Linked DNA regions of Homo sapiens: regions 2, 3, 4 and 5 are each linked to region 1. The links come from fine-mapping of genetic effects on gene expression. A gene starts in region 1. Each other region holds a variant in brackets. All regions are shown on one strand. Distances are between the middles of the regions.

What was found.
Region 2: its variant is fine-mapped to the expression of ADGRE2 in whole blood (INTERVAL, PIP 0.90).
Region 3: its variant is fine-mapped to the expression of ADGRE2 in whole blood (TOPMed, PIP above 0.99).
Region 4: its variant is fine-mapped to the expression of ADGRE2 in whole blood (INTERVAL, PIP above 0.99).
Region 5: its variant is fine-mapped to the expression of ADGRE2 in whole blood (TOPMed, PIP 0.98).

What each region holds. Positions count from the first base shown.
Region 1 is chr19:14,775,851-14,781,060 of GRCh38, reverse strand. ADGRE2 (adhesion G protein-coupled receptor E2) reads left to right here and starts at 2,501. Exons shown (of 21, transcript NM_013447.4): 1 at 2,501-2,804; 2 at 4,134-4,335. The coding sequence starts at 4,305. RefSeq lists an enhancer at 4,965-5,024.
Region 2 is chr19:14,754,859-14,759,858 of GRCh38, reverse strand. It overlaps ADGRE2 (adhesion G protein-coupled receptor E2), which reads left to right. Exons shown (of 21, transcript NM_013447.4): 12 at 3,514-3,621; 13 at 3,982-4,205; 14 at 4,732-4,905. Among named protein-coding and RNA genes, the nearest start is that of ADGRE2, 21 kb to the left of the region's middle. RefSeq lists enhancers at 97-622, 623-1,146. The variant T/A (reference allele first, on the strand shown) is at 2,397.
Region 3 is chr19:14,797,389-14,802,598 of GRCh38, reverse strand. OR7C1 (olfactory receptor family 7 subfamily C member 1) reads left to right here. Exons shown (of 5, transcript NM_001370485.4): 3 at 1,835-2,066; 4 at 2,155-2,343; 5 at 2,450-4,084. The coding sequence starts at 2,463. The coding sequence ends at 3,425. Among named protein-coding and RNA genes, the nearest start is that of ADGRE2, 21 kb to the right of the region's middle. RefSeq lists an enhancer at 1,337-2,536. The variant G/A (reference allele first, on the strand shown) is at 2,838.
Region 4 is chr19:14,659,098-14,664,097 of GRCh38, reverse strand. ADGRE3 (adhesion G protein-coupled receptor E3) reads left to right here. Exons shown (of 16, transcript NM_032571.5): 3 at 558-680; 4 at 1,980-2,135. Among named protein-coding and RNA genes, the nearest start is that of ADGRE3, 13 kb to the left of the region's middle. The variant C/T (reference allele first, on the strand shown) is at 2,876.
Region 5 is chr19:14,728,574-14,733,573 of GRCh38, reverse strand. ADGRE2 (adhesion G protein-coupled receptor E2) reads left to right here. Exons shown (of 21, transcript NM_013447.4): 21 at 1-1,182. It also overlaps a transcript of ZNF333 not described here. Among named protein-coding and RNA genes, the nearest start is that of ZNF333, 41 kb to the right of the region's middle. RefSeq lists an enhancer at 1,809-3,008. The variant G/AG (reference allele first, on the strand shown) is at 1,989.

The DNA.
Region 1 (5,210 bases):
GGGCCCCAAACCCCCAGGTTCCAGTTCCCCTTTTGACAAATGAGGACCATGTTCGCACCCCCCATCATTGCAGAGGTTGTCCAGAAGCTGCAAAATAGGTCAGCAGGACTGAGACTTCTGGACAAAGAGAAGGCGGAGAAACATAGGCAGACACCCCGGCAGGGACCAGATCAGCGAGGCTGAAGGAGGCTTCCTTTAGCTGGGCGGCAGCGGAGTGGAGTGGCAGGAGTACTACTAATTTGCATGGTTTACCATATAGGGCCCCACTCAGCACAGGCTCTGTGCTGGTGCTCTGCAGAGAAAAAGACAAAAGTCACTCAGGGGGCTGACAGCCTAATGCGGCTCGAGGGCAGATGGTTGCTAGGGAAGAAGGGAGATGGTGAGAAGTATTGGAGAGACTCAAGAAAGCCGCCAGGAATGGTGACTCACGCCTGTAATCCCAACGCTTTGGGAGGCTGAGGCGCGTGGATCATTTGAGGACAGGAGTTCGAGACCAGCCTGGCCAACATGGTGAAACCCTGTCTCCACTAAAAATACAAAAATTATCTAGATGCGATGGCAGGTGCCTATAATCCCAGCTACTCGGGAGGCTGAGGCAGGAGAATTGCTTGAACCCGGGAGGCAGAGATTGCAGTGAGACGAGATAGCACCACTGCACTCCGGCTTGGGTGACAGAGCAAGACTTCGTCTCAGAAAAAAGTAATAATAAATAATAATAATAATAATAAAATAAAAATTTAAAAAGAATGTTTCAGGCCGGGCATTGTGGTTCACGCCTGTAATCCCAGCACTTTTGGGATGCCAAGGCAGGCAGATCACTTGAGGCCAGAAGTTCGAGACCAGCCTGACCAACATAGCGAAACTCCATCTCTGCTAGAAATACAAAAATTAGCCAGGCGTGGTGGCTTGCACCTGTAATTCCAGATACTTGGGAGGCTGAGGCAGGAGAATCTCTTGAACCCAGGAGGCAGAGGTTGCTGTGAGCTGAGATCACATCACCACACTCCAGCCTGGGTGACAGAGCGAGACTCTGTCTCAAAATAAATAAATGAATGAACAAATAAATAAAATAAAATAAAAATACAAAAATTAGCCAGGTGTGGTGGTGGGCACCTGTAGTCCGAGCTACTCTGGAGGCTGAGGCAGGAGAATCGCTTGAACCCGGGAGGCGGAGGTTGCAGTGAGTCGAGATGGCGCCACTGTACTCCAACCTGGGCAACACCAGAGTCTGTCTCTAAAATACAGTAAAATAAAATTAAATTAAGAAGAGTCGATGATCACCATGAAGGGGTGTAGGGACAATCCCTGGCATCAGGAAGTGCCACTACCTCCCTGAGATTCTGCAGACGCCAGCTGTCTGACCTGCCCGTCTGATCTGCAGAGAAGGGACGTTGAGCCCTGGGGTTCTAGCTGGAGTTTCTGGCTTTCTGAGAAAAAAAAGGCAAAATCCCTCCAGACCTGGTCTGGCCCTCTCTCCTTCCAGCTTCTGCTGGTGTTCACTCCCCTCCCCCACAGCCCAGGCCACCCCCACAGGAGCCCGGGACAGGAAGGGGTAAATTCTAGGACTGTGGATGTTTGATTATTCCCAGGACAATAGTTCTCTGACTTCAGTCATTAGTGACTTTTTTCTCCATCGCTGCAATCTCCCCCTTTGAACAACTGAACTATATTTTCCTTAGCATTCATCACTTCTGCATCTTGAATTTACTCATGTAACAAGGAGACTTGATTTCGGCATCCTCACTGAAAAACCCTCCTCATTGCCCCAGATAGTAGGGAAACCTAAAAATAAATATAAATATGAGGAACACAAAACCAAGTCCTTGAATTCTGGCTGGATACAGACACCTGCTAAGCCTCAGGGTCACGGAGGCGCTAAAGACATGTTAGTGCCCAGTGGAGACTTTCCCCTGGGCTCATCGCAGGGACTCCAGGGCTGGGCTGCCGGCCTGTGGATCTGAGTCTCAGCTGGGTGAGTCACTTGTGCCTCAGTTTCCTCCTCTGTCAAATGGGAATGACAACATCATTGCAGATGTTTTAAGGAGTAAATGAGTTAATATAGATTAAAAAAAAAAAGCACTTAGGACCAGACCTGGTACAAATTAAGTGCTCCATAAATAATAGCATTTTCTTGGCAGGATAGCGAGATCTCGTCTCTACAAAAAAAAAAAACACTTAAGGAGAAAACTAGCCAGACGTGATGGTGCACAGCTGTAGTCCCAGCTCCTCAGGAGGCTGAGGCAGGAGGATCCCTTGAGCCCTGAAGTTTGAGGCTGCAGTGAGCTGTGATGGTGACCCTGCACTCCAGCCTGGGTGACAGAGTAAGATCTCTTAAAAATATATATAGCGTTTTAAAAAATGATTACGTACCTCAAGAGACAAGCTAATCATATGATTTATCCAGAAAGGAAAGAACCCTCCTATCACATGATTCTCTGTTGATTAACGAAGTGCCCAGGGGCCTCTGAAATATAAGTTTCCCACAGGAGGAAACTGGCTTAGAAAGACCAGAAAGATCCGGGGGGTCTGCTCTGTGCGGTGAAGCTTCTCTTCTTGGCACCTGCCTGGCATCGGAAGAGGGCCCCTTCTCCCTCCCTGGGCTTTTATGTGGACACTGTAATGCCTCAGTTTTCTTTCTTTCTTTTTGTTTTTGACACAGGGTCTCACTCTATCACCCAAGCTGGAGTGCAGTGGCACCATCTTAGCTCACCGCAGCCTCAAACTCCCCAGCTCGGGTGATTCTTCCTGCCTCAGCCTCCTGAGTAGTAGCAGCTGGGACCACAGACGTCTGCCACCAAGCCCAGGTAATTTTTTTTCTTTTTGAAGAAACAGAGCTTTGCCATGTTGCCCAGGCTGGTCTCAAACTCCTGAGCTCAAGCGATCCTCCTGCCTCGGCCTCCCAGAGTGCTGGGATCACAGGTGTGGAGAAATAGGAACGCTTTTACACTGTTGGTGGGAATGTAAATTAGTTCAACCATTGTGGAAGATAGTGTGGTGATTTCTCAAGGATCCAGAACTAGAAATACCATTTGACTCAGCGATCCCATTGCTGGGTATATACCCAAAGGATTATAAATCATGCTACTATAAAGACATATGCACATGTATGTTTATTGCGGTACTATTCACAATAGCAAAGACCTGGAATCAACCCAAATGTCCATCAATGATAGACTGGATTAAGAAAGTGTGGCACATATACACCAGGGAATACTATGCAGCTATAAAAAAGGATGAGTTCATGTCCTTTGCAGGGACACAGATGAAGCTGAAAACCATCATTCTCAGCAAACTAACACAGAAACAGAAAACCAAACACCACATGTTCTCACTCATAGGTGGGAACTGAGCAATGAGAACACCTGGACACAGGGCGGGAAACATCACACACTGGGGCCTGTCGGGGGGTGGGGGCCTGGGGGAGGGATTGCATTAGGAGAAATACCTAATGTAAATGACGAGTTGATAGGTGCAGCAAGCCAACATGGCACATGTATGCCTATGTATCAAACCTGCTCGTTGTGCACATGTACCCTAGAACTTAAAGTCTAAAAAATTTAATTAATTAATTAATTAATTAATTTAAAAAGAAAGAAAGAAACCGAGCTTCGCCATGTTGCCCAGGCTGGTCTCAAACTCCTGAGCTCAAGCGATCCTCCTGCCTCGCCCTCCCAGAGTGCTGGGATCACAGGCGTGAGCCTCTGTACCTGGCCTCAGTTTCCTCATCTGGAAAACAGCAGGGGAAGATACTGCCAGCTGGGACGCAGGCTCTGCCAACTCTGGCATGCCAAAGCTCTGGGCACAGGGTGAGCCCTACCAAAGTGGGAGCCCAGAGCTATTTCTGACAAGGCCCCTGCGTGCCTGCCCAGGGAAGAGCCAAGTGGCCCCAGGCGAGACCGCCCCGCCCGGCTGCCACACCTTCCCCTGCACAGCAGCCAGCCTGGAACACACAGAGGCCAGAGGGTTGGTCAGAGCCACATGGTGGAAACTCCAGCAGAGGGATTTTTAAAGCAGGTTGCACTTCATTCTTGCTGAGCGAGTACACGTGTGTGTGTGTGTGTGTGTGTGTGTGTGTGTGTGTGTGCAGCGCCCCTGGTTCTGTGTTTTTATTGTGCTTTCCTGCTGGCTTCCAGCTGCACCGCCAGTTCCGGGGAGGGCCCTGGGCCAGCGGCTGTCCGCCCCCCCTCCTTTATAAAGTCCTGGCCTCGGGACAGCCCGCACAGCTGCCCAGCCTGCGGAGACGGGACAGCCCTGTCCCACTCACTCTTTCCCCTGCTGCTCCTGCCGGCAGCTCAGCTGGAACCATGGGAGGCCGCGTCTTTCTCGTCTTTCTCGGTAAGTACTTTGGGGCCCCGCTGGGGGTGGTAGCGAGGAAGCTCCAGCGGGACCCCTTGGATGCGTCTGAGAAACGGGAGGCGCCGCTGGTGTCTGTGGGGCCGGCGATGGAGAAAGCCACATGGTCAAGCAGGCACTCACGGGCACACGGCGAGAGGGGCTGGTGGTGCTTGGGCACCCCCACACCCCGGCAGGAACTCCAGGGTGCTCTCGGAGCCTGCTACCCTGCCCGGAGGGATCCTCAAGCTTTCTACTGGAGCCAGTTTGGCATCTGCTCCATAAGAGGGGAAACTGAGGCACGGGGGAAGGAAAGGGGCAAAAAGTGAGTGCTAGGACCCCAGAGCCACTGCTCTTAATATAGCGCATAGAAAGACATGGGCGGGGGGCGGGGAAAATAGAGGCCAGGACTTCTCCACTGCAGGGTACCCCCAGCTTCTCCCTTCTTTCTCTCTCTCTCTCTGTCTTTCTCCTTCTGTCTCTCTTTCAGTCTCTCTATCTCCCTAATCTCCGTTTTCTCTCTACCTCTGCCTCTTTGTCTCTCTCTCTGGTGAACAACAAGGAGATCCCTAGGTCCCCATCTCTAAAGCCCCTGGTGACCTGAGGAGGGTCCCCCAGGACATGCCTTGGAAAGGGGAACTTCCTGAGTGCTGGGAACCGCAGCGCCACATGCACCCCAACAGGCGGCCACAGCGTTTTCCTGTGGGAGGGGCGCCCGGGGTGAAATATCACCACTGGGTTTCAGGATGGGCCGCCAGGGCTGGCGGCGGTTGTGGTGTGTGTGCACCTGTGTCCCTGAGGAAGCATGCGGTTCCAGGGCATCTTAGAGCCTGGGGGATCCAGCGCCATCATTTTTTTTTTTTTTTTTCTGAGGCGGA
Region 2 (5,000 bases), 21 kb after region 1:
TGACAGAGTGAGACTCCGTCTCAAAAAAAAAAAAAAAAAAAAATCTGCTTAATAAGCGGAGAGGTGGCTGGCTTGGTGGCTCACACCCGTAATCCTAGCACTTTGGGAGGTCAAGGCAGGCAGATCACCTGACATCAGGAGTTTGAGCCCAGCCTGGCCAATATGGTGAAACCCTGGCTATTAAAAATACAAAAATTAGCTGGGCTTAGTGACACGTGCCTGTAATCCCAGCTACCTGGGAAGCTGAGGCAGGAGATTCGCTGGAACCCAGGAGGCAGAGGCTGCAGTGAGCTGAGATCGTGCCACTGCACTCCAGCCTGGGTGACAGAGTGAGACTCCGTCTAAAAAAAAAAAATATATATATATATATGTATAACTTATACTTTTTGTCTAACTGTATGTCTCTACCTGTTAACTCACCTCTCTTCATCCCAGTGATACAGGAGTGAAAAAGAAATTATTTAGGCAGTTAGCAAGGGTCAGAGAGTCCTCAGTAAGGTTTCCCTTTTAATAAAAACCAGCCCCCAAATCATTTCTTTTCTAATAACGAGCAGCCTGAAAATTCGAGCTGCAGACATAGAAAAGCAAGCTGGAAGCTTGCACGGGTGAATGCCGGCAGCTGTGCCAATAGGAAAAGGTTACCTGGGGGCCCGACATGTTCAACGTGGGGGCTCCCTCTTCCTTTATCTTTGTCAACCACGTGTACAGTACAGAAGCAGGCAACGTGGAGCCAGCCAGGTAGAGAATCCATTTGCATAATAAAAGATTAGGCTGGGGCAGCCAGTTTCTTCATGCTGTATGTAAATGGCTCACCTGTTCAGACCAATCTTTAAGCCTTATGTAAATCGGACACCGCCTACCCAAGCTCATCTATAAAACTTCGTGCATTTCACCACGCAACCGGAAGACCCACTTGGGAGCCCCTGTCTCTCTGCAGGAGAGGGAGTTATTCTCTTTTTCCTTTTTTTTTTTTTGAGACGGAGTCGTGCTGTGTCCCGCAGACTGCAGTGCAGGGGCGCGATCTCGGCTCACTGCAAGCTCCGCCTCCCGGGGTCACGCCATTCTCCTGCCTCAGCCTCCGGAGTAGCTGGGACTACAGGCGCCCACCACCATGCCCAGCTAATTTTTTTGTATTTTTAGTAGAGACGGGGTTTCACCGTGTTATCCAGGTTGGTCTCGATCTCCTGACCTCGTGATCCTCCCGCCTCAGCCTCCCAAAGTGCTGGGATTACAGGCGTGAGCCACTGCGCCCAGCCAGAGCTATTCTTTTTTTCTTTCGCCTATTAAATCTCCACTCTTAAACTAACTTCTTATGTGTCCACATCCTCAATTTCCCTGGTGTGAAACAGTGAAACTTGGGTATTTACACCACTTCACTAGTGAGATGATACCTCATTGTGGTTTTGATTTGCCCTTCCCTGATAACTAATGATGTTTAACATCTTTTCATGTGTTTGCTCACCATTTGCATGTCATTTTTGGAGAAATGTCTATTCAAATCCTTTGCCTATTTTTAATTGTGCTGTTTGTCTTTTGGTTGTCCAGTTGTAAGCATTCTTTAAACATTCTGATAGTAGATCATCTGAGATGAATGATTTGCAAAATATTTTCTCCCGTTCTGTAGATTGTCTTTTCATTTTCTTGTCTTTTCACTTTAATGAATAGAAGTTTTAAATCTTGAAGACATTTATTTTATCTAATTTTTCTTTTGTTGCATGTGCAATTGGTGTCATATTTAAGAATTCATTGACAGGGGGTGGTGGCTCACGCCTGTAATCCCAGCACTTTGGAAGGCCAATGTGGGCGGATCACCTGAGGTCAGGAGTTTGAGACCAGCCTGGCCAACAAGGCGAAACCCTGTCCTTACTAAAAATAAAAATAAAAATAATTAACCAGATGTGTTGGCACATGACTGTAATCCTAGCTACTCAGGAGGCTGAGGCAGGAGAATTGCTTGAACCTGGGACACGGAGGTTGCAGTGAGCTGAGATTGTGCCACTACACTCCAGCCTGGATGACAGAGCAAGACTCTGTCCCAAAAATAAAAATAAAAAAAGAATTCATTACCGCATCCAAGACCAGGAAGATTTACCCCTGTTTCCTCCTAAGTGTTCTAGTTTTAGCTTCTAAGCTTAGGTCACTGGCTTATTTTGAGTTAATTTTTGTTTGTTGTGTGAGGGTAGGGTTAAAACTTCCTTATTTTCATGTTACTATCCAGTAATCCCAGCACTATTTGTTGAAGAGATTATTCTTTCCCCCATTGTATAGTCTTGGCACCCCTTGTTGAGAATCAACTGACCATAAGATGGATGGGTTTATTCCTGGACTCTCAATTCTATTCTGTTGTGTCCTTATGCCAGTATTACTGTCAGTTTGTAGTAAGTTTTGGAATCAGG[T/A]AGTGTGAATTCTCCAACCTTCTTGTTCTTCTTCAAGATTGTTTTTGGGTATTTGGATTCCTTACAACACCATATGAATTTTAAGATGAACTTTTCTTATTCTGCAAAGTAATAATAGGCTAAAATATTGATAGGGATTGCATTGAGTCTCTAGACCACTTTGGGGGAGTATTGTTATCTTAACAATAGAAAGTCTTCCAATCCATGAACATAGGCTGTCTTTCCATTTAGAGAGGGCCTTTTATTTCTTTCAAACACTTTTGTAGGCCAGAAGCAGTGGCTCACGCCCAATATTGTCAGAGGCCACCAAGGTGGGAGAATTGCTTGAGCCCAGGAGTTCAAGCCCAGCCTTGGAAATATACTGAAACATGATCTCCACAAAAAATTTAAAAATTAGCTGGCTGTGGTAGTGAGCACCTGTAGTGCCAGCTACTTGGGAGGCTGAGGTGGAAGGATTGGTTGAGCCCAGGAGACTGCAGTGAGCTATGATCATGCCACTGCACTCTAGCCTGACCAACAGGTGAGAATTTGTCTCAAAAAAAAAAAAATACTCAAAAAACTTTCCTATAAGTCTTGAGTCTCCTTCGTAAAATGTATTCCTAACATTTTTGCTGAAAATTTTTGCATCTATGTCCATAAGAAATATTGGTCTATAATTTTATTTTCTTGTGATGTCTTCATCTGGTTTTGTTATCAGAGCAATATTAGACTCATAAAATTACTTAAATAGTGTTTCCTCCTCTTCCATATTTTTAAAAAGGTAAAAGATTCATGTTCATTCTTTCTTAAGCTATTGGTAGAACTCACCAGTGAAGTCATCTGGTCTGGGCTGTTAGTTTTGAGAGGTTTTGATTACTGATTTAATCTGTTATAGGTCTGTTCAGATCTTCTATTTCTTCTTGAGTTGATTTCAGTGGTTTGTGTGTCACTAGGAATGTGTCCATTTCATCTAGGTTACCTACTTTGTAGATATACAGTTGCTCACACTATTCTCTTCCGATATTTTGTAACTTCAGACTATATATGTATATAGTATATATATTAAGTCATAGTATATCAACCACTGCAGGCACGATTCCTAACCTAACCCCCCTTATGTAATTCCCACAACTCATAGAATTGTCCCTGGAGGTGCAGAAGCAAGTAGACAGGAGTGTCACCTTGAGACAGAATCAGGCAGTGATGCAGCTCGACTGGAATCAGGCACAGAAATCTGGTGACCCAGGTAATGGCTGAGATGGGGAGGTGGTCAGTGAAGCTTCATGGTGGGAAAAGATGCCCAAGAATGTGAAAAATAAGAAATTTAAAGATTAAAGGGAAGTGTGGGATGTTTGGAGTGGGGCTGTAAGAGGAGAGTCCAGCTGAGGAGGAACGGACCTTGTTGGGGACCCTGAGATATTAACCGTGGCCTTGTCCTGCAGGATGTGATACACATAGAACTAAAGATTGAAGGAAAGTGTGGGAGGGGTGAAGCCAAAGGAAGGTAGCCCATCTGAGTAGAAAGTTCTGTGCAGGGCAGAGGAACTCTGGTGTGGACCCAGAGATTCAACCTACTCCAAGATTCAACCTTGGCCTCGCCCTGCAGGCCCTTCTGTGGTGGGCCTTGTCTCCATTCCAGGGATGGGCAAGTTGCTGGCTGAGGCCCCTCTGGTCCTGGAACCTGAGAAGCAGATGCTTCTGCATGAGACACACCAGGGCTTGCTGCAGGACGGCTCCCCCATCCTGCTCTCAGATGTGATCTCTGCCTTTCTGAGCAACAACGACACCCAAAACCTCAGCTCCCCAGTTACCTTCACCTTCTCCCACCGTGTGAGTGCTGGTGGAGTTGGTTGGTGGGTGAATAGTCTGAGTCCGGGCATAGCCTTGCTGCTCAGCTCAGCCCTGGGGCTCAGGGGTCTCTGTTATGGGTACATTATCTCCCCAGGAAAGTCAGTCCTTCCCAAGCCGGCTTTGGGTAAGCATTTCTGAGCATCCGACCCACCAGCTCACACCTGTGTTCTTTTTTTTATTGAGACAGAGTCTCGCTGTGTCAGCCAGGCTGGAGTGCAGTGGCACGATCTCAGCTCACTGCAGTCTCCGCCTCCCAGGTTCGAGCGATTCTCCTGCCTCAGCCTCCCTAATAGCTGGGACTACAGGTGTGTGCTACCACGCCCAGCTAATTTTTGTATTTTTTTTTTTTTTTTTTTTTTTTAGTAGAGATGGGGTTTCACCATGTTGGCCAGGCTGGTCTCAAACTCCTGACCTCAAGTGATCCACCTGCTTCAGCCTCCCAAAGTGCTGGGATTACAGGCGTGAGCCACCATGCCCAGCCCACACCTGTGTTCTGTTCCTGCAGTCAGTGATCCCGAGACAGAAGGTGCTCTGTGTCTTCTGGGAGCATGGCCAGAATGGATGTGGTCACTGGGCCACCACAGGCTGCAGCACAATAGGCACCAGAGACACCAGCACCATCTGCCGTTGCACCCACCTGAGCAGCTTTGCCGTCCTCATGGCCCACTACGATGTGCAGGTGAGACCCTTAGGAGGGGATGCACTCTGCATTTATTGCCGTGTAACAAATCCCCAGAGACGTAGCAGCCTTTTAAAAAAATATATGCATTATCT
Region 3 (5,210 bases), 22 kb before region 1:
AGGTAGGTAAAGGTAAGCTCCTTGTGTTATTCCTTCAGCAGTCCATTGGAATTATTATCTTTCTTTAATTATTATTTGGAGACAGAGTTTCACTCTTGTCACCCAGGCTGGAGTGCAGTGGTACAATCTCGGCTCACTGCAACCTCCGCCTCCCAGGTTCAAGCGATTCTCCTGCCTCAGCCTCCCAAGTAGCTGGGATTACAGGCGTGTGCCACCACGCCCAGCTCATTTTTGTGTTATTAGTAGAGACGGGGTTTCACCATGTCGCCCAGGCTGGTCTCGAACTCCTGACCTCAGGTGATCCACCCGCCTCAGTCTCCCAAAGTGCTGGGATTACAGGCGTGAGCCACCACGCCCGGCCCATTGGACATATTAAAACAGAACATTGCCATACATTTCCGCTATCTTCAGCACCAGGAACTGGTGGGACTGTGGGGTTGTCATATTCAGCAATGCCACTGAGCCAAGAAAGATGGTGGGAAAATGATAAATTGCCACAAAGCTGTCCAACCTGGTTTCAGTCACCTTTTTTAAAAAATTAAGGATTCACTTTGTTGCTCTAAACCTTTGACTGTTTTCCAGATTCCTGACTGATATGGTTTGGCTCTGTGTCCCCACCCAAATCTCATCTCGAATTATAATCCCCAAGGTTGAGGGAGGGGCCTGGTGGGAGGTGATTGGATCACAGGGGCAGTTTCTAATGGTTTAGCACCATTCCCCTAGTGCTGTCTTGTGATGGGATTCTCATGAAATCTGGTTGTTTAAAAGTATGGTGCTACCGCCTTAGCGCGCGCTCTCTCTCTCTCTGCTGCCATGTGAAAAAGGATGCTTGCTTCCTCTTCCCCTTCCACCATAATTGTAAGTTTCCTGAGGCCTCCCAAGTCATACAGAACTGTGAATCAACTAAACCACTTTCTTCATAAATTACCCAGTCTCGGGTAGTTCTTTACAGCAGCGTGAGAATGGACTAATACACTGATCAAGTTGATTATGACAGCTGCCACGGTATTATCTATGTTTCTGTGAAGTATTGGTACTTTGGAGTTCTCTACCTAAAATTCAAAATATATCCTAAAATCGCATTAATTTAATACGCAGTACCTATAAAATTTTTTAACCATATTTTACCAAAATATTTTTTTAAAGCATAATGTCTGACTGGCTTTCCAGTGACAGAACAGAAACTCACAAAACGAACATGTAAAATAATGTAACATATGATCACATAAACAATGCAAATTATTGTAAACATGTCAGATGTTTGCACTGAAAAAATGAAACATTGGCTTTATAAACAAAGGTTGGAATAGCTGAGAACAATGTGTGAAAAGTATCAACTCCATGCAGATAGCAGGGGGAAAAAGCATAGTTATTGAGCTCCTGTTTTGCATGCATATTAGGTAATGAGGAATGAGGGAAGACATGGAGGAGAACAAAGGTGAGAAGAGCTGAGAACTAGAAGCTGTAAGTGTCCAAGACCATTGCTACTCAAATATTAATGAAGCTGCTACATTGTCTGGAGTATATACCCTGGGGTTCATTGGCATGCACTAGGAAAATTTAGAACACGGACACACACGAGGAGTTCAGAGGCGGAGGTTTAATAGGGAGAAGAGAAGAAAAAGAGAAACACCTCTCTCCATAGAGAAAAGGGTCTCCGAGAGGAAAGGACAGGCTGGTGGTGAATGCGCAGAGTTTAATAGTCCCCTTTGAGGAGGCAGTGTCTGATTTACATCAGGCTCACAGATTGGTTCCATCAGGTATGACATTTTCATAGTGCTCAGGGAAGGCTGGTGGCCCCACCCTAATCTTACTTTGCAATTGGACTTTCCAGTTGATCTGCGCCATCTTGTCTGCTCGTGGCTGACAAAGAGAAGGGAAGATGGAGCCACCATCTTGAAAACTTCTAGTCCTTAGTTCCTGCCGGCATTCACCCGTGCAAGCTCCCAGCTTGTTTGTGTCTGCAGCTCGCCTTTACAGGATGCTCTTTGTTAGAAAATGATTTGGGGCTGCTTTTCATTAAAAAGAAAAGCCTCACTGAGGACTCCCATAACCTTACTATCTGCGTAAGTGATTTTTTCTTAACTCCTATATCACTAATATGCATGTGAAACCCTTGGTGATATTGTTAAAATGTAGATTCTGAATCCGTAGGTCTGACCAGGGATTCTGCATTTAAAGAAACTCTTGTTGATCTTGTTGGTTCATGGACAACACTTTGAGAAGCCAGGCTATAGAGGGTACAAGTATTATGGAACTAACACTACATTTCCAGATCCCGATGGTAGCAAAGAAAAGGATGGAAGAATTTCAGATGCCCCAGAAAAAGACAGCAAGAAAAAGGCAATCTTTTGTTAATTGATTCCTTCACTTAAAATTAAATGTAACCAAATTTCCATGTTGCCAGTGTGTTGATAATTGACTGTTGCTTTTTTCTCTCTTGTGGCAGTTATTTTATCCCCATGGAAACAGGAAATCAAACACATGCCCAAGAATTTCTCCTCCTGGGATTTTCAGCAACGTCAGAGATTCAGTTCATTCTCTTTGGGCTGTTCCTCTCCATGTACCTAGTCACTTTCACCGGGAACCTGCTCATCATCCTGGCCATATGCTCAGACTCCCACCTCCACACCCCCATGTACTTCTTCCTCTCCAACCTGTCTTTTGCTGACCTCTGTTTTACCTCCACGACTGTCCCAAAGATGTTACTGAATATACTGACACAGAACAAATTCATAACATATGCAGGCTGTCTCAGTCAGATTTTTTTTTTCACTTCATTTGGATGCCTGGACAATTTACTCTTGACCGTGATGGCCTATGACCGCTTCGTGGCC[G/A]TCTGTCACCCCCTGCACTATACGGTCATCATGAACCCCCAGCTCTGTGGACTGCTGGTTCTGGGGTCCTGGTGCATCAGTGTCATGGGTTCCCTGCTCGAGACCTTGACTGTTTTGAGGCTGTCCTTCTGCACCGAAATGGAAATTCCACACTTTTTTTGTGATCTACTTGAAGTCCTGAAGCTCGCCTGTTCTGACACCTTCATTAATAACGTGGTGATATACTTTGCAACTGGCGTCCTGGGTGTGATTTCCTTCACTGGAATATTTTTCTCTTACTATAAAATTGTTTTCTCTATACTGAGGATTTCCTCAGCTGGGAGAAAGCACAAAGCGTTTTCCACCTGTGGTTCCCACCTCTCAGTGGTCACCTTGTTCTATGGCACGGGCTTTGGGGTCTATCTCAGTTCTGCAGCCACACCATCTTCTAGGACAAGTCTGGTGGCCTCAGTGATGTACACCATGGTCACCCCCATGCTGAACCCCTTCATCTACAGCCTGAGGAACACGGACATGAAGAGGGCCCTGGGGAGACTCCTCAGTAGGGCAACATTTTTTAATGGTGACATCACTGCAGGACTTTCATAAGTAGCAAGGCTTGGACCATTGGGAGGCACTTTTGGTGGTTCTTGAATGTATCCAAACATCAATGTATTCTCTTTTAGTTCTGGAATTACCATATCTTATCGTGTCTTTGATACAGGAGCTAGAAAGAAATTATTTAGGTAGATAGGGAGGGCCACAGAGTCCTTGGCAAGGTTTCCCCGTTAACAAAAAGCAGCCCTCAAAATCATTTCTTTTCTAACAAAGAACAGCCTGAAAAATCGAGCTGCAGACATAGATAAGCAAGCTGGAAGCTTGCATGAGTGAATGCCGGCTGCTGCGCCAATAGAAAAGGGCTAGCTGGGGACCAGTCATGTTCAACATGGAGGCTCCCTCTTCCTTTTCTTTGTCAACCATGTGTACAGCAAAGGAACAGGCAACATGGGGCTGCCCAGGTAAAGAACCCATCTGTATAATAAAAGATTAGGGTGGGGCAGCCAGCTTCTCCACATGCTATGCAAATGGCACACCTGATCCAACCAATCTTTTATGGCCTATGTAAATCAGACAACACCTCCTCAAGCTAGTTTATAAAACCCTGTGCATTTCACCATGGAACTGGCAACCCATTTTCTCTGGGACCCCTCTCTGCACATAGAGCTCTTCTCTTTCTCTCACCTATTAAACTTCTGCTCTTAACCTCACTCTGGTGTGTCCGCATCCCAGTCTTCTTCCATGGCTGTGGGACAACAAACCTCAGGTGTTACCCCAGACAACTATGCTGCTTCATCTTGATTTTGACAATTTTTGAAGACGGTGTATTAACTTTCTAGGGCATCTGTAACAATGTGCCACAAATTGGGTGAGTTAAACAATAGCAATTGATTGTCTCACATTTCTGTAGACTATGACGCCTGAAATCAAGTTGTTGGCAGGGCTGGTTCCACTTGAAGGCTGTGAGAAAGATTCTGTTCCATGCCTTACCCCTAGCTTCTGCCGGTTGCTGGCAGTCTTTGGCTTTCCTTGACAATATAGAAGCATCACCCCAATCTCTGCTTTCATCTTCAGGTGATGTTCTCCCTCTAGGTGTGTCTGTGTCCAAATTTCCCCTTCTTATATGGACAACATTCAGATTAGAGGCCAACTCTACTCCACTATGGACCTCATCTTAGCTTAACTAATTACATTCACCGCAGCCCTATTTCTAACTGAGGGCTTTAATGTAACATATGATCACATAAGCAATGCAAACTATTGTGAACATCTCAGATATTTGCAATGAAAAAACTAAACATTGGCTTCACAAAGGTCAGAATAGCTGAGACCACATTCTGAAGTTTTGGCGGTAAGGACTTCAACATATGAATTTGTAGAGAATGAAAATTCAACCCATAAAAGACAGTTTCATCAAGACTAGCTTTAAATGCAAAGAATGACCAGCATCCCAAATTGCCCATTTCTGTTTTTTTTTGTTTTTTTGCAAATAAAATTTTATTGGCATATAGCCACACCCACTTGTGTACATATTATCTGTGGCTGCTTTCATGTTACAAGAGCAGATATGAGTAACTGCCACAGAAATCATCTGACCTGGAAAACCTACCTAAAATATTTACTCTCTGGCCTTTTTCACTGTGAAGGTTTGCTGACCCCTGAATTAAAACATTGCTCTCACTTCATCTCGTCTAAGTTAGATTTTTTTTTTTTTTTTTTTTTTTGAGATGGAGTCTTGCTTTCTCACCCAGGCTAGAGTGCAGTGGCGCAATCTCGGCTCCCTGCAAGCTCCGCCTCCCGAGTTCATGCCATTCTCCCACCTCAACCTCCCGAATA
Region 4 (5,000 bases), 120 kb after region 1:
GAGTGAGCCACCACGCCTGGCCACTCTAATTTTTTAACGTGCTTAGATCTCACAAGAGGAAAAGGCACAGGCTTCCTCAGCCTTGAGAGGCCCTGCCCAGAGGCGAGGCCTCATTATTATTATTATTTACATATATAATATGTCAGGGGAGTGGGGGGCTGGGGGAGGGATAGCATTAGGAGAAATACCTAATGTAAATGGGTGCAGCAAACCAACGTGGCACGTGTATACCTATGTAACAAATATATATATTTGTTTTGAAATGGAGTCTCCCTCTGTCACCCAGGCTGGAGTGCAGTGGCACAATCTCGGCTCACTGCAATCTCCGCCTCACAGGTTCAAACAATTCTCCTGCCTCAGCCTCCTGAGTAGCTAGGATTATAGGCATGCACCACCACGCCTGGCTATTTTTGGTATTTTTAGTAGAAATGGGGTTTCAGTATGTTGGCCAGGCTGCTCTTGAACTCCTGACCTCAGGTGATCAAGAGGCAGGGCCTAATTATAACAGGAGAGTTTGTGACCCCAGTCCATTTAACCTGCCTCTCTTCTCCCTGCAGCTTCCTGTGCTAAGTGCCCCCCAAATGCTTCCTGTGTCAATAACACTCACTGCACCTGCAACCATGGATATACTTCTGGATCTGGGCAGAAACTATTCACATTCCCCTTGGAGACATGTAACGGTAAAGAAGTATTATTATTTTTTATTATTATTATTTTATTATCATTATTATTAGAGACAGGGTCTTGCTCTGTTGCCCAGGCTGGACTGCTGTGGCATGATCAAAGCTCACCGCAAGCTGGACACAGTTGCTCAAGCCTGTAATCCCAGCACTTGGGGAGGCCTAGGTGGGCAGATCACTTGAGGTCAGGAGTTCGAGACCAGTCTGGCCAACATGACAAAACCCCATCTCTACTAAAAATACAAAAATTTGCCGGGCATGGTGTGGGGCGCTTATAATCTCAGCTACTCAAGAGGCTGAGGCATGAGAATAGCTTGAACCTGGGAGGCAGAGGTTGCAGTGAGCCGAGATTGCACCACTGCACTCCAGCCTGGGCAACAGATCGAGACTCTGATCAAAATAAATAAAAACACTCACTGCAGCCTCCAACTCCTGGGATCAAGCCTCTCAAGTGGCTGCAACTACAGGCGTGCCACCATGCCCAGCTAATTTTTTTTTTTTTTTTTTTTTTTTTGTAGAGATGGATTGTTACTATATTGTCCCGGCTGGTCTCAAACTCCTGAGCTCAAGCAATCCTCCCGCCTCGGCCTCCCAAAGTGCTGGGATTACAGGCGTGAACCCTGCACCTGGCCAGGGATAATTTGCAAGTTATCCAGAAGCAGGAGCAAAAGGGAGGCAAAATGGGGGCTGTTTTGGAAACTTGGCCGTTCATTTAAGATAGTTTCTTGTTTCAGCCAGGCATGGTGGCTCGCGCCTGTAATCCCAGTTCTTTGGGAAGCCAAGGCAGGTGGATCACCTGAGGTCAGGAGTTTGAGACCAGCCTGGCCAACATAGTGAAACCCCGTGTCTACTAAAAATACAAAAATCAGCCGGGCGTGGTGGTGCATGCCTGCAATCCCAGTTACTCGGGAGGCTGAGGCAGGAGAATCGCTTGAACTCAGGAGGCAGAAGTTGCAGTGAACCCAGATCCTGCCATTGCACTCCAGCATGGATGACAGAGCAAGACTCCGTCTCAAAAAGAAAAGATAGTTTCTTGTTTCATTTCGCGACTGCCCTCTCAGTGTTTCCTGGGATCCCCTCCCAAATAAAGTACTTATATTCTCGTCTCATTGTCTGCTTCCTGGAGAACCCCACCAAAGTCAATGAAGAAAGCGAAAAACCAAGATAACCATTACCTAAACTGATTTGTCTCGGAAAGCCAGGACAGACCATGGGGGAAAGAGCACAACTCCTGACACATAGTAGCTGCTCAATAAATCTTTGCTGAATGAATGACCCAATTGCTTCTTTGTGTTCCAGACATTAATGAATGTACACCACCCTATAGTGTATATTGTGGATTTAACGCTGTGTGTTACAATGTCGAAGGAAGTTTCTACTGTCAATGTGTCCCAGGATATAGACTGCATTCTGGGAATGAACAATTCAGTAATTCCAATGAGAACACCTGTCAGGGTAAGAACATTTTTGTCCTCCTGCCTTCCTTCCTCTGTTGTTGTTTTTTTGTTTGTTTGTTTTGTTTTGTTTTGTTTTGAGACAGAGTCTCGCTCTGTAGCCCAGGCTGGAGTGCAGTGGCTGAAACCTCCGCCTCCCGGGCTCAAGCGATTCTCCTGTCTCAGCCTCCCAAGTAGCTGAGATTACAGACGTGCACCACGACGCCCAGCTAATTTTTCTTGATCCACGCTCCTCATCCTCCCAAAGTGCTGGGACTTTTTACAGGCGGCAGTCCTTCCTCATTTTTTATTGAATCTAACATCAGAAAAGACGTATTTGTTGTGGGACCAGGATGTGGTTTTTATTTTCTGCAGGGAACTACAAGGAAAGAAGGAAGTTCAAGTTGAGGGAAATAAGGGGGTGAGAAAGGGAACTATAGTTTGGAGATGGAGGATGTGACAAGGTGGTGATTGAGACCACATTCTTTGAATTGCAAGGAAGAGAAACTCACTCAGGCTAACAGGCCAAAAAATGGGTTTATGAAAACGATGCGTAGCCATGCCCTGCAAGGACAGGAATGCAGCTGGGCTTCTGGAATTAACTAAAACTGGGAACTCAACACCCCCAGGGTGCATCTCCTAGTCCCTGTCTCTAATCATCTTTGGATCTGCTCCTTCCTTCTCTTTCACTGCAGGCTGGCTTTCTCTGCTTCCTAGACCACAGGACAGAAAATATGACCACCGGCTGGGAGGGGTGGCTCA[C/T]GCCTGTAATCCCAATACTTTGGGAGGCCAAGGCGGGTAGATCACTCGAGACCGGGAGTTCAAGACCAGCATGGCCAACATGGCGAAACCCCATTTCTACTAAAAATACAAAAATTAGCTGGGTGTGGTGGCGGGTGCCTGTAATCCCAGCTTCTCAGGAGGGTGAAGCACAAGAATTGCTTGATCCTGGGAAGCAGAGGTGGCAGTGAGACAAGATCCCGCCACTGCACCCCAGCCTGGGTGACAGAGTGAAACTCTGTCTCAAAAAAAAAAAAAAAAAAAAAAGGAAATATGACCACCAACCCGCTCCAGATCTTACCATTTTTTTTGCCCCAACCAACCAAAGAGAGATCAGTTGACTCTCTCTCTGAGACCCCATTGCAAATTCTTTGGGAATGAATACATTGGCCCAGTTTGAGCCCCATGTGCACCCGTGGATCCGTGTCCAGGGAGAGATACTGTGTCATGTAAACATGACCACTCCCATGGAAAACATGGATGGGAAAGTCTATATGAGAAAAGAGATGAGACTTGGTAGACCACCCATGAGGTATTGACTACCGTAGGGATAATAAGAGAGAAACTTTTTTTTTTTTTAAGAGATGGGGTCTCACTCTGTCACCCAGGCTGGAGTACAGTGGCACAATCATTGCACACTGCAGCCTTGAACTTCCAGGCTCAATCCTCCCACCTCAGCCTCCTGAGTGGCTGAGATTATAGGTATGAGCCACCATACCTGGCTAATTTATTCATTTTTTGTAGAGATGGGGTTCTCACTATGTCGCCCAGGCTGATCTCAAACTCCTGGTCTCAAGCGATCCTTCTGCCTTGGCCTCCCAAAGTGCTGGGATTATAGGCATAAGCCACAGCACTCAGCCATAAATCTGTCTTTTACTAAGCAATGCGCACCTCTATTGACAGTGTAGAAGCAGACTGTGATTCTACCTGGGTTCTGATGTTAATCTCTTAAACTTGTCTTATTTTACAAAAAAGGAAAATGCCTTTGGTTGTTTTCCTAATGTTAAGAGGTCTGCACCGTCCTTTTATAAAGACTGAGCCCATTTGGGGTTCGTTATTACCAAGGCTGGCAGCTCTAAGCAACAGACACCCCCACCCAATGATAAAGTGTGCAGCTTTGGTTCAAAAGGGCAGTTTTCTACAATAAATACGGTTTCCTATAACAAACATATTCTAGACTCAGGGTTGTAAGTCAAAGTTCTTGAACTCTTAAGATAAAATGTTCAGTATTAAAACAAAGCTGTTTGTGCTTTTAAGCAAATAGACTGAGCTGAAAACCAAAATTTAGAATAAGTACAGATTTAACCTCAGCATGATGATAAAAGATATGTAAACATTTGCTAGACTTTCCTTGTCTTTTTTTTTTTTTTTTTTTTTTTTTTCAGAGGCAGAGTCTCGCTCTGTCTCCCAGGCTGGAGTGCAGTGGTGTCATTTCAGCTCACTGCAACCTTTGCCTCCTAGGTTCAAGAGATTCTCCTGCCTCAGCCTCCCGAGTAGCTGGGATTACAGGCACCCGCCAACATGCCCAGCTAATTTTTGTATTTTTAGTAGAGACAGGGTTTTGCCATGTTGGCCAGGCTGGTCTCGAATGCCTAGGCTCATATGATCCTCCTGCCTCAGCCTCCCAAGCAGCTGGGACTACAGGTGCACCCTTCCTCAAATTTCTAAAGCAGAGATGTCCTCACTAAGCACAGAAACCAACACAAAAGTCTTCATTAACAGCTGATGACCAGACACTGATGCTTCTGTTTCGGTTATCATTCCCAGCCAGGCTGACTTTAAACACAAGAGGCTTCTAATTTTCTGTTTTCTCGGACATTTCAGTTCTAATTTCCAGTCAAGATGGAATAAAAGAATTTGGAGGCCAGGCACGGTGGCTCGCGCCTGTAATCCTTGCATTTTAGGAGGCCAAGGCGGGTGGATTGCCTGAGGTCAGGAATTTGAGATCAGCCTGGCCAACATGGCGAAACCCCATCTCTACAAAAAATACAAAAAAAAAAAATTTAGCCAGGTCTGGTGGTACACACCTACAGTCCCAGCTACTTGGGGGACTGAGGTGGAGGATTGCTTGAGCCCAGGACATTGAGATTGCAGTGAGCCAAGATTG
Region 5 (5,000 bases), 47 kb after region 1:
GGGAGAGTGGTGTGTTTGCTTTTATACATTTTTCTGCAGCTGTAGGCATACCCCCCAAGTCTGCTTTTAGCTTCCCTATTTTAGTGCACCTGGAGGGAAAGGAATGTGCTTATTAAGGCCCACTGTTTTACTGGGGCCCATTGTATGAGGGTGAAGTTTGGCAGTTACCCAAGAGACTTTTCCTCCACCTTCCTCTGTGCCCGAGCTGTTTTATCTGCATTTTACTGTCTGCTTTTTTTGGCTGCTTATAGTTTTTAAAAAAGTAATTTCCTTAAATCCAGAAGGCTAAAAATGAAGCTGAAACTTAAAGTGGCGGTGTTTGTCCAAAATAACGGGGCTCCTGCTCTGCCAGTCAGTACCCTCAAGTCACTCCTGATCCTCAACCTCCATGCCTAAGGCTGGTTCAAGAGACCACATAATATCTGCCTTTTATTACATACATGATGGGTGCATGGGATTCTGCGTGCCCTTTGCTTGATATAGACTGCTAAGGTGAGATGGGGAATATCAGAGTCAGCTGCTGCTTGAGGAAGCAGAACACACAGCTGGAGGCTTGGAACATGTGGGTCCCTATGAGTGTAGAGCCCATATCCCCATAGAGTCTACCTAGAGCAGGGGTCGCCAAATGTTTTCTTAAAGAGCCTGATAGTGTATATGTTAGGCTTTGTGAGCCAGGTATTTACAGCAACTCAATTCTACCACTGTGGTATGAAAACAGCTATAGACAATCATAAATGAATGATCATGGCTATGTTTTAATAAAACTTTACAGACACTGAACTTGAACTTCCATTGTGATATGAAAACAGCTATAGACAATCATAAATGAATGATCATGGCTATGTTTTAATAAAACTTTATGGACACTGAGCTTGAACTTCATATATCAGTCATGTGACACAAAATATCATTCTTCTTTTTATTTGTTTTCACCCATTTGAAAAATGTAAAAACTATTCTTAGCTGTACAGAAACAGATGGTGGGTCAGATTTGACTCACTGCCCATAGTTTCCAGACCATGATGTTCAGGTTCATGGAAGCACTTCACTCTACACTAATTTATTCATCCATTCATCACATATGTGATGAGCACATACAGACACACCTCAGAGATATTGCAGGCTCCACTCCAGATCACCACAATAATGTGAATATTGCAATAAAGCAAGTCATACACATTTTTTGGTTTCCCAGTGTGCATAAAAGTATGCTTACCCTATACTGTAATGTGTGCAATAGCATTATGTCTTTTTTTTAATGTACATACTTTAATTTAAAAATAGTTTATTCCTAAAAAATGCTCAAGCAGGGACACAAAGTGAGCACATGCTGTTGGGAAAATGGCACCTACAGACTTGCTCGACACAGGGCTGCCATAAACGTTCAATTTGTAAAAAATGCAATATCTGTGAAGGGCAATGAAATGAGGTATTCCTATACTCTCGTGCAAGGCATAATGCTAAATTGAGAGAAACTAAAACATATAAGACAGACATGATCCTACATCCAGGAATATTGATGATTTGTAAGATGGAAAATGAGGAGGAAGGAAAGGTGCAGTGCAATGGACTCTGTGGTCTGGGGGACACACAGCCCCTTTAAGGACATGGCAGAAGTGAAACACAGACGAGGTTGGGGAAGGAAGGTCAGAGGAAACTCTAGGGTCAGCTGATGGCAGCATCCATTTGCCCCCATATCTTCACTTTTTAAATTTATTAAGTCCATTCTCTTTATTTATGATGGAAATAATGTTAATTTGCTCATGGGTTGTGTTTGAATATTAAGTAAGAAAATAAAGATTAAGCTCTGGTATGTAGTAAGAAACCCAAAGATAAACAAGAGTTAAGGGGCAAGTAGGCAGCAGAGTTTCCCATCTCATTTCTCCAGAATTATATCATCCAGTTTGAAACATGAAATACGGCTTTAAGGTAGAGTTTGGCTTCTCAGCTGGATTTTAAGTACAAGACCACGCCCACCAAAGACAGCA[G/AG]ACAAAGGAGCTAGGGTACACGTTTGAAGAACCCTCTCCCTCCAGCTCTCCACCGTGGGGGTCCACTGTGAGCAGTTTCCCTGGCTGTTTTCCCCCTTTCTGCATCTAACAGTCATTGCACGGCTGGGGAAACAAAGACCCACACAGGCCTTAGTCTCCTTGCGGGGAACCTACAATCCGGAAGCCAGAAGTATGTGACTAAGCTCCCGGAAGCCGGAAGTTAAGGAGCCCGGATGTCACGGAACTGGAAGTTTGAAAGTCCAAGGCCACTGACCTGCAAGCTTCAGAATCTGCAGATTTGGAGTCTTCAAGCCCCAGTAGTGATCCTTTGATATCCAGAGGTTGGATTCTAGCGATCTGAACATGCAAGAGAGTACTGGATGTGGAAATTCTTCCAAATTAGTTGGGTGGCTGAAAAGGGAATTATAAGGAGGAAGAATGAGGGAAAGAGAAGAGAAATTGAATGAATAAAGGGGCCAATCCTTGGGGGGAGGGGGCAGGAGGGGCGGTGCTTGAGACCAGGGCAGCATGTAAGGGACTGCCTATGAATGTCCTAAATATCTGCTATTTAGGGCATTCTGGGATGGGAGTTTGAAAGACTGATGGTGGTGTGTTTTGCAGCCACATGAATGCAGCTGGAACCATCATCCTAAGTGAATTAACTTAGAAAACCAAATACCGCATGTTCTCACCTGTAAGAGAGAGCTAAATATTGGGTACACGTGAACATAAAGATGGGAGCATTAGACAATGGGGACTACTAGATGGAGGAGGGAGGGAGGAGGGCAAGGGTTGAAAAACTACCTATCAGGTACTATGCTCACTAACTGGATTCATTTGTACCCCAAACCTCAGCATCATGCAATATACTCTTGTAACAAACCTAAACGTGTACCCTCAGAATCTAAAAATAAAAGTTGAAATTAAAAAAATCACTGTTGATAGACATTTGGGTTGTTCCCAGTTTGGGTTATTACAAACTGCTTTGCTAGCTTTAACTTTTTTTAAATAATAAACTCTTAAATTTACAGTGCAAGAAATACAGAAAGAGAGAGGAAGACAAAGAAAAAGAAAGGAGATAGAGAAAGGAAAAGCAAAGAAAGAAAAAGAAAAAAGTGAAAGAAAGAGAGGAAGGGAGGAAGGAAAGAAGGAAGGAAGGACAGACTGATGGTGGGATAAGAGAGAAGGGGCTGGGAAGAACTAAGTGGAACATTCTGAAAATGAAGACAGTGGCCGGGCACGGTGGTTCACACCTGTAATCCCAGCACTTTGGGAGACTGAGGCAGGCAGATCACCTGAGGTCAGGAGTTCAAGACCAGCCTGACCAACATGGTGAAACCCCATCTCTACTAAAAATACAAAAATTAACCAGGCATGGTCACGGGCACCTGTAATCCCAGCTACTCAGGAGGCTGCGAGGCAGAAGAATCACTTGAACCTGGGAGGCAGAGGTTGCAGTGAGCAGAGATTGTGCCATTGTACTCCAGCCTGGGTGACAGAGCGAGACTCCATCTCAAAAAATAAAAAATAAAAATAACTCTCTTCTCTCTATTTTCCTTCAATAAATTCTCTTTTTGGCTAAAGTAGTCATTTTAGCCAAAATCTTTCTCTCAAGACAACAAAGAACTGAGGATTTCTGCCCTTTCCAGTATACAACTAGCAGGGATCCCACTGGCATTTTTCTTTGGACAGATAAAATTGGATGTATTTATCAAGAGCAACATGATGTTTAATGGATGTATACATTGGGGAATAACCAGATCTAGCAAATTAATGTATGCCTCGTCTCATATAGTTATTATTTGGTGGTGAGAACAATTTACATCCACTCTCTTAGCATTTTTTAAGAATATAATTTATTATTAACTATAGTCACCATGCTCTACAATTGATCTCCTGAACTTCTTCCTCCTGTCTAACTGAAATTTGTATCCCACCGGGCGCAGTGGTTCACACCATAATCCCAGCACTTTGGGAGGCTGGGGTGGGCAGATCGCTTCAGCCCAAGAGTTCAAGCCCAGCCTGGGCAAAATGGAGAAACCCTAACTCTACAAAAAATATTAGCCAGGCATGGTGGTGCATGCCTGTGGTCCCAGCTACTCTGGAGGCTGAGGAGGAAGGATCACTTGAGCCCAGTAGTTTGAGGCTGCAGTGAGCTGTGACCACACCACTGCACTCCAACCTGAACAACAATTAGACCCTGTCTCAAAAAACAAAAAAAAAAAGTGTATCGTTTGACCAACATCTCCCCAACCCAAGCTACTGGCATTTAGTTAATAGTCCAGGGATGCTGCTCAACAGTCTTCAGTGCATAGGGCAGTTCCTACAGCAAAGAATTATCTGGCCAATAAGGTCACAGTTGAGAAACCCTGACTGTAGGATGCAATGAATCTCTCGGTTTCTCTTCAAAGGTTCAGTCTGTTAACTTCCTTGTCTCTATGCCTCCCTGCCCCAAGTTACTATAAACAGCCTTCCCGTCGGCACTAATCAATAACTCACATCTGTTCCCTCGGTCACGCATTCTGCACCCGTTCCACCCCTCAAAACCACACACATACCCTTCAAAACTGCACGTCCCACCATTGTAACTCACGTCCCCTTCCCCCTTCTTTATTTGAGAGAAATATTCGCAAGTAGCCAATCGGGTCAGCTTACATTGTGCCGACCCCAGCCCATGGGGGAAGGACATGGAGGCAGGGATTGCGTTAAGGATATAAAACCCCCCTGGCCTCCTTTGTTCTCTGTGCTCTTGGATCTTGATTGACGTGGGTGGCACCCTTCTGCAGAAGTAAACTGCCTTGCTGAGAGAACTTTTGCCTCAGTGCTGGTTTCACTTTGCAGCACCCAGCATTTATTGCTAGAGCATTTTTATATTCAACATGACCTAAGGTGTAAAGGGATTCACATGGAAGTTTTTGCCATTTTCTTCATCCTTTCCATTGTCGTCATAGGTCACTCATTCCCAGGTCTAGAGAAAGTTTGATGCAGTAACTGTTGTTTGAGATGAGTGGC